Regions from separate parts of the Homo sapiens genome. Here all the other regions are linked to region 2. The links come from fine-mapping of genetic effects on gene expression. A gene starts in region 2. Each other region holds a variant in brackets. All regions are shown on one strand. Distances are between the middles of the regions.

What was found. PIP is the estimated chance that this variant, and not a neighbour inherited with it, causes the effect.
Region 1: its variant is the best candidate, but not a certain one, in a credible set for the expression of FAM228B in cerebellar hemisphere (GTEx, PIP 0.59).
Region 3: its variant is the best candidate, but not a certain one, in a credible set for the expression of FAM228B in whole blood (INTERVAL, PIP 0.53).

The regions. Positions count from the first base shown.
Region 1 is chr2:24,060,734-24,063,493 of GRCh38, forward strand. FKBP1B (FKBP prolyl isomerase 1B) reads left to right here. Exons shown (of 4, transcript NM_004116.5): 3 at 81-193; 4 at 2,331-2,760. The coding sequence ends at 2,459. Among named protein-coding and RNA genes, the nearest start is that of FKBP1B, 12 kb to the left of the region's middle. RefSeq lists an enhancer at 205-344. The variant CACCACGGCCGG/C (reference allele first, on the strand shown) is at 1,288.
Region 2 is chr2:24,121,982-24,124,741 of GRCh38, forward strand. It overlaps FAM228B (family with sequence similarity 228 member B), which reads left to right and starts at 1,488. Exons shown (of 11, transcript NM_001145710.2): 1 at 1,488-1,552; 2 at 2,349-2,479. The coding sequence starts at 2,381. It overlaps PFN4 (profilin family member 4), which reads right to left and starts at 1,353. Exons shown (of 5, transcript NM_199346.3): 1 at 1,137-1,353; 2 at 438-566. The coding sequence starts at 554. RefSeq lists a silencer at 1,420-1,919 and an enhancer at 1,990-2,239.
Region 3 is chr2:23,453,418-23,456,177 of GRCh38, forward strand. The region is part of intron 1 of KLHL29 (kelch like family member 29); the gene reads left to right. The region is part of intron 1 of LOC124907741 (a long non-coding RNA gene); the gene reads right to left. Among named protein-coding and RNA genes, the nearest start is that of LINC02923, 67 kb to the left of the region's middle. RefSeq lists enhancers at 1-116, 117-616. The variant A/T (reference allele first, on the strand shown) is at 1,386.

The DNA of each region.
Region 1 (2,760 bases), 61 kb before region 2:
TCCATTTTAGACATGTGGAATCTGAATTGGGAGTTTACTCATGACCACAGCTCTATTGCACCCGATTCTTGCTTTGACAGGAATGCTCCAAAATGGGAAGAAGTTTGATTCATCCAGAGACAGAAACAAACCTTTCAAGTTCAGAATTGGCAAACAGGAAGTCATCAAAGGTTTTGAAGAGGGTGCAGCCCAGGTAGGATGAGGATTCGCATTAAAGGGGATCTGGGGAGTTGGGGATCTGGGATCAGCACTCTGCCCTCCACCTCCACCTTCACCCACTCACAGACCACTACTGCTTTGACTCTACAGCCAGGGCATGGCAACGCCATCTGGTGTCCCCTCCTGGCTTTGCGTCCCCACCCCTCTCCTTGCCAGCATACCTCTTTTGTGTCCCTGGGGGCTCTCATCCCAAGCACATCCCCCTAGGCTTGCTCAGAACTAGCTGAGAGAGCCAGGCACGGTGGCTCACACCTGTAATCCCAGCACTTTGGGAGGCCGAATGGGGTGGATCAGTTGAGGCCAGGAGTTCAAGACTAGCCTCACCAACATGGTGTAACCCCGTCCCTGCTGAAAATACAGGCGTGGTGGTGCATGCCTGTAATCCCAGCTACTTGGGAGGCTGCGACAGGAGAATTACTTGAACCGGGGAGGTGAAGGTTGCAGTGAGCAGAGATTGTGCCACTGTACTCCAGCCCAGGCGATGGAGTGAGACTGTCTCAAAAAAACAAAACAAAAAAATAAACTAGCTGAGGTCTACCAGTTGCCTGGGACTGAGGTAGTGGAAGAGTTGGGGTGGAGTAGGCCAAGAAAATTTTTCGTTTTTTCGCTTTTTTGAAAAGAATTTCAGAATTACAAAAATATTAAAGAAATAGTACAGAGTTCTTCTATATTCTATCCAGCTTCCCCTTCTTGCATAACCATAGTACAATTATCAAAACCAGGACATTCACACTGATACAAATTACTTACTTATTCAAATTTTTGATTATTCAAAATTCAAAAGTAGATTTAAATTTCACCAATTGTCCCACTAATGCTGAGTGGGTTCTCAACAACTGCTGTGATGAGCCCTGGTTCAAGCTGTTCTTTCTTGGTCTGTCTGTGAAGTCCTATGATGCTCCCTTACGATAGGTCTTGTTTTTGGTGTTTTTTTTTAGAAAGAGTATCACTCTGTCACCAAGGCTGGACTGCAGTGGCGCAATCTTGGCTCACTGCAAGCTCCGCGTCCTGGGTTCACGCCATTCTTCTGCCTCAGCCTCCCTAGTAGCTGGGACTACAGGCGCCCGC[CACCACGGCCGG/C]CTAATTTTTTTGTATTTTTAGTAGAGACGGGGTTTCACCGTTGTTAGCCAAGATGGTCTCGGTCTCCTGACCTCGTGATCTGCCCGCCTCAGCCTCCCAAAGTGGTGCGAGCCACCGTGCCCGGCCTGTTTTTTGTTTTTTATTTATTTATTTATTTTGAGACGTAGTCTCACTCTGTTGCCCAGGCTAGAGTGCAGTGGCACAATCTCAGCTCACTGCAACCTCCTCCTCCCAGGTTCAAGCAATTTTCCTGCCCCAGCCTCCCGAGTAGCTGAGATTACAGGTGTGCACCATCACCATCACGCCTGGCTAATTTTTGTATTTTTAGTACAGACGGGGTCTCACCATGTTTGCCAGGCTGCTCTCGAACTCCTGACCTCAGGTGATCCACCTGCCTCGGCCTCCCAAAGTGCTGAGATTACAGGTGTGAGCCACCACGCCCGGACTTTTTGTATTTTTTAGTAGAGACAGGGTTTTGCCATATTAGCCAGGCTGGTCTTGAACTTCTGGACTCAAGTGATCTGCCCACCTTGGCTTCCCAAAAGTGCTGGGATTACAGGTGTGAGCCACCACGGTTGGCCACAATAGGTCCCCCTTGCCACCTTGCTGGTGACTCTAGTCTCTAAACCACTTTAAATAACTGCCCCTGTCACCTACTTGAGTATTTACGTGTGCTATTCATACACCCTCTTTTCCTAAAGAGGCCTATTCTTTGGAAGAGGGTGAACTATGAACAAATGGAAGTGTTTCAGTCATACACAAATTGAATAACCAGTAATGTTTGTCAGATGCATGAATTTGAGACCACTCTGTGAGGGTTACTGCCCCACAGTCACATCTCTGCTGAGGCAGAATCTGCGTTTGTTAAAGCTGTTAGCACGATTTCAATGTATCCCATGTAAAATTCATCTGAGATCTTCAGAGTTAACATTGAGGATGGTTTGGGAAAATGCCATAGTCATCTAACTTTTTTCTTTTAAATCAAGCTGGGTCCTCTTTCTCCTCTCCCCATCTGCCCCCATCCCTGCTAGATGAGCTTGGGGCAGAGGGCGAAGCTGACCTGCACCCCTGATGTGGCATATGGAGCCACGGGCCACCCCGGTGTCATCCCTCCCAATGCCACCCTCATCTTTGACGTGGAGCTGCTCAACTTAGAGTGAAGGCAGGAAGGAACTCAAGGTGGCTGGAGATGGCTGCTGCTCACCCTCCTAGCCTGCTCTGCCACTGGGACGGCTCCTGCTTTTGGGGCTCTTGATCAGTGTGCTAACCTCACTGCCTCATGGCATCATCCATTCTCTCTGCCCAAGTTGCTCTGTATGTGTTCGTCAGTGTTCATGCGAATTCTTGCTTGAGGAAACTTCGGTTGCAGATTGAAGCATTTCAGGTTGTGCATTTTGTGTGATGCATGTAGTAGCCTTTCCTGATGACAGAACACAGATCTCTTGTTCGCACAATCTACAC
Region 2 (2,760 bases):
CTAAGCCTAGAAACCTAAAATATTTATGTAGCTCTTTACAGAAAAAGTTCATTTAAAAGTCATGTCTGGGCTGGGCACGGTGGCTCATGCCTGTAATCCCAGCACTTTGGGAGGCCGAGGCAGGTGGATCACCTGAGGTTAGGAGTTTGAGACTAGCCTGACCAACATGGTAAAACACCATCTCTACTAAAAATACAAAAATTAGCCGGGCCTGGTAGCGCACTCCTGTAATCCCAGCTACTCGGGAGGCTAAGGCTCAAGAATCGCTTGAGAGGCGGAGGTTGCAGTGAGCTGAGATCATGCCATTGCATCCCAGGCTAAGCAACAAGAGTGAAATTCCGTCTCAAAAAAAAAAAAAAGTCATGTCTGCTTCATTTTTTGGAAGAATAGAAATAATAAGTAAATCAAGTCTTAGGTCCAAACTTGTTTTTTCTTACATTGAAACCTGGTGATGCTACACACAAGCTCCGCTCCTGGATTTTGATGAGGGCTGCACTGTCCACATGCTTGGTTCCCAAGAGGGTGTCTAACAATAAGCTCTGCAAATGGCTCATGTTCCCTCAACTCTGAAAGGGAAAGTGCAGTTGAAGCCATTGACTCTGGCTAGCTTTTAAAAGGCATGTGAATACAAATGTCCTTAAGACACTGCAGACAGTTCTAAGATCAGCAAGTGTACTTTGAAAAGGTACAGGGTGAAAACGGTGGTCCATCATTCAGGGCCCACCAGTACCCAAAGAGGAAAACAGAATCATAGAAAAATCACAGCTCACACAGAATAGGTTATGAAGCTGAGTTTGGAAAATCACAGCCTGGTGATTTTCTGGCTATGTCAATGGTTTACATCAGGATTATCTGCGATTTAAAAACAAACATTACACACTGAGAAAAACTCTGTAAAATAAAAAATAAAAACAAAAAACAAAACCCAGCCAGGATGGAGAGCTACCCTGCTAAGTTAAACACGACTAAAAGAGATTATGCGTGGCCATAAACCCACACATTCCCTTCCCGGTGACCTGCATCAGCGCCAGCTATGAACGCTGATCAACATCCCAATGGACTAAAAACACCTTGAAGGCACTTAAACCCACATTTCCCGCACAAGTCCCCAAGCCTTGGACCCCCCTCATCAGGACCTCCGGCACAGGCGCCCGTTTCCCGCCACTGCCTTCCAGTGGTTTGGTCCCCGAGCAGGACCCAAGGCGGGGCAGGGGGTGGTGAGCGGTGAATTCCCTGGCACCGAGGACTCGAGGGAGCGGACGCCACCCCGCTCTGTGGTGCCCGCAAGGACCCGGCGACCAAGGACCCGACCGTCAACGGACGCGGTTGCGGGTGGGTGGCGGCGGCAGGATTGGCCGGGCCACGCGCCGGTCACCGAGAAGCAGCGACTCCAGCCCCTTCCGCAAACCAAGACCCGCCACCTAGAGCCGCCGCCCAATCCCCTTTGGGCCTGAAGCCGTCCTCCGCCGCCCCGGCACCGCCCGCGCGGACTCGCTGTGGAACCCGCGGCGCAGGGGGCGGAGTGCTCGCGCGGCGCTGCGTCCGGGAGACGGTGGGCGCCAACATTCGCGCGTTCCGCAGACGCGGGCGGGCTCCCTTCCAGCCGCAGTCGGACGGCTCCGGGGTCGTCGGGCCGGGCCCGAGTGTGTAGCAGGACGGCCGCGGGCCTGCTGGCCTTGGGAGGGCAGAGAGGTGCCTGTCGCGGCCGGCGACCTCCCCGCCAGGCCGGGCGGTCCCCGCGCACGACGCGCCTGCGCGGGAGGCCCCCGGCCCGGGGCTGGCGTGGAGGCCGCAGGCGCCCGGCCTAGTGGGTGGGAGGAAGGGCCGGGAGTGGGCGCGATGAGCGAGAGCGGGTGCGGACGCCTACGACATCCCCGTCGCACCCGTGCCTCGGGGAGGACTTCGAGCCGCTCAGAGCTCGAAGACTCGCGCAGTATGACCGAAAGCCCCTCCCTGCCTTCTCTAAGCAGCTCAGCCTGTGTTTCTGTGGCCAGAAAGTTGCAGTTCTTCCCACTCGAGGCCACCAAAGTCAGAAAAGTGTTGCAAATGGGACTCCGAGAGGCCAGGCTGAAGCTGCCACACTGGCTGGAATGGGCTGCCTTGGAGGGGGACGTGGGAATCCATTCCAAGGGACGGGGGATTCTTTCAAAGAGCATCTCGCCTGCTTATAAAGGAGGCTGGCTCTGAAGCCGTCATCTGGAGTCTGTAGTGAAGGCCTCTTGTTAGGGAAACTGGATGGTTAGTGTTCAAAATCCATTTTGCGTGTGTGCAAGGACACAGGTGGTATTAAACAGAAGAGAAAATCAGATGACTGTGAAATGTTCAATACTAAATAAGATGATTTTTAGTTTTTCCAGGGGCATTGTTATTTGTGACCACAATGAAAAATGTAGACAGTGATGATCTGGTAACTGGCACACTTCCCAAGCTCAAGAGCTCAAAAGAATGGTTGGAGCCCAAGCCCCTTTGTTTTATGGAGGTATATATCAAATAGTGTGGGATTTGGAGATTTTTTTACTTGGATCGTTGCAGTAGGAAGTGGCTTGTGCTAAATATATTGTTTTTTCTATTGTTTGTTTTTATTTCATTCTGTTTATTATTCCCTTCACTTTACTAACTTTGTATATTCACTTTGCTGTTTTTTTCTAACATCTTAAGGTGGAATCATAGGTCATTGATTATATACCTTTTAAAATGTAACATAGCTATAAGTTTCTCTTGAGGTACTGCCTTAGCTGCATCACCCAAATTTTGATATGA
Region 3 (2,760 bases), 670 kb before region 2:
GAGGCTTTTCAGAAATGCGATTGAAAATAGAAGTGTGGGTGCAGCATTTTCCTTCCTGCCACATGGGAATTCTGGGGAAAGAGCTCACCTTGAAGGAACAACCTTGCTGGGAGTGCAGTGGGGGGACCTTTCCCCTGGAGCCGGAGCCCCTGCTGGGTTCTGGCAGCCCCAGGATGCCCACTGAGCTCTGCTTCTCTGGGCACCCTGAGAAATGGACGGCAGCGGCCCTGACTCCGGGCTAAGGCAGGGCTTCAATTAAGCCAGAGAAACACGATTTATTATCAGCATGTTTTCAGTTCCAAGCCGTGCTTTGAAAAGGTCACCTTATATGAATATTTAGAAAAAGCAAGATCATAAAATAAGAGGGACTTGGTATTTTGTTTTGTATTTTTTTTTTAGAAGAAAATTCGGGCTCACTGGTAACTTACAATGGGCAAACTCTAGCACTTTTTATTTAACCTGCATTTACCCTTTAAAAATGGGGAGGAGGTTTTAGAACTGCATTTGAGGAGACTTTCTGTGTCCAGGGGATTTTACAGCGTTTGAAACCAGGGCAGTGAGCCTTACACCCGGGACCCAAGGTCCGCTTGCTGACTAAATGCCCATTAAAACAGCAAATGAGGAGGCCAGGTCTGCTTTGAAGAGCCTAGCCTAATTGTGTTGTATTTGTGTCAGCTGATGGCTACTTTTTTCATTAGGGACTTTTAACCTGTGGGTCATCTTTTGAAATACACATTCGATTGAGTCAGTTCTTCCTTTAAGACCTCAATTGGCTCTCCTTGCCCGAGGAGAAAGCTGGGCCCCTGACCCTCCCGCCCCGGCCCCTTGAGATCTGGACACAGCCTTGCCTCAGAACTCAGCCTGTCACCTCCCCTCCCCTCCTGTCACGTCCTGTGTCCCATTCCAGTCCCATAGTGAGGGGACTTAGTGGATTATATTGTAGGATGAGCTTAGTTAAAGATTAAACGAGTATGTTTATTCTTTATTTCACAGAGTAATTGTTTTAAAACGAATTTTATTTTTATGCTTAGTAGGATGGATTTTATTTAAACCCCCAGGCAGACTCCATTTAAATCTGTCTATAAATTGTATAGTCTTGATGTTTTTGTATAACTTTGATATACATTCTTTACAAAATCCCGGTTTTATTTTTACAAGATGAAGATTATACATTTTAAAGCAGTTATTTCGTCAGCTTTTTCTGTCTCCTTGTATAATCATATCAGAGGACTGAATAATGATTTCGTTATTTCATTTGCACAGTCTCTCGTGACTGCTAAGCACTCTGCTTGTAGTTCCTGTTTTTTGCTATTCCTCTGTTCTTGCGTTTTTTTCTGCAATCTCTCCCCGCCTTGCCCAGATCTCTTCCTCAATGATTTTTTTTT[A/T]AATTTTGTACAACAAATATTCCTCGGTGCCTCCTGCCCACCAGACACTATGCCAGGTGCCAAGTGTAGAATGCAGATTAAACAGCCAGGTTGTCTACCCCTTGGCACTTGGCATGGAATTCCGTGGCGCCTTTCCATTAAAGAGGGCTAAGGGCTGTCAGCTGAATTTGACAACTCGTAGAAACAGGAACAGTGGGTTGGGGGGGGGGCATTTATTTCTCTCGCATCTGCAGCCTCTGTGCAATCAGTTTGTCATCTCTGAAGACAAATTTATTGTGAATTAAATAAGATCACCCTTTGATGTCTCTTGAATGTGGCCTCTTCTCAGGCCTGGCTCCTTCTGGTAGAGCTGTTGTCTTTAGTTGCTGACATTATCAATAACAAAATCTTGGCCCACCCATAAAATTGTCCCACTTCCATAATCCTTGACCTCTTGTGACTGATTAGTAAAGCTCTGTAAAAAGGTTACCTGAAAATATATTTTATAAATACCGTGTATTATGATTCAGAGTTACACCTCGTGCCTAAAATATGTTCTTCAACTTTAACCTATTTTAAGTTGAAATAGTTTTGCTAGATTTGGTTGGTTTATCATTACTGTTGTTATCAACATTGGTTTGGTCTGTTGTTAGTGAAGGTCTTTGTTAAAAAGCAAATAAATAAGTGGAAATCCAGTTAATGTAAGATATTTTGGTTTGTGAATTTTATTTGCCTTTCTGCTCTAAGAAGTTTCCCTGAGGACAGGCAGACAAGTTTGCCATTGAGTGATGAAGAGAAGCGTCAGCTGAGGGATGGTCTCCTGATTTTTTTTTTTTTTTTTTTTTTTTGAGACCGAGTCTCCATCTGTCACCAAGGCTGGAGTGCAGTGGCACCATCTCGGCTCACTGCAACCTCTGCCTCCCAGGTTCAAAAGATTCTCCTGCCTCAGCCTCCCGAGTAGAGTCTCCTGATTTTGTAAATTCTGCCATGTGGTTCATTTGTTAGTCAGCCACAGTTAGGCACTGAATTGTGTCTCCCCAAAATTCACATGCTGAAGCCCTAATTCCCAATCCCTCAGAATGTGGCTGTATTTGGACATAGGGCCTTTAAAGGGGTGATTAAGGTGAAACCTGATTGGTGTGTTTATAAAAAGAAGACACACAGAGGGACACAGGAATGTGCATGCAAAGAGGAAAGACTGTGTGAGGACTTCGTGAGAAAGCGGCCACCTGCAAGCCAAGGAGAAGAGGCCCCAGAAGAAACCAAACCTGCTGACACTTTGATCTTGGACTTCTGGCCTCCAGAACTGTGAGAAAATAAATTCCCATTGTTTAAACCACCCAGCCTTTGGTATTTTGTTATGGCAGCCCTAGCAAATTAATGCAACCACCAAGCC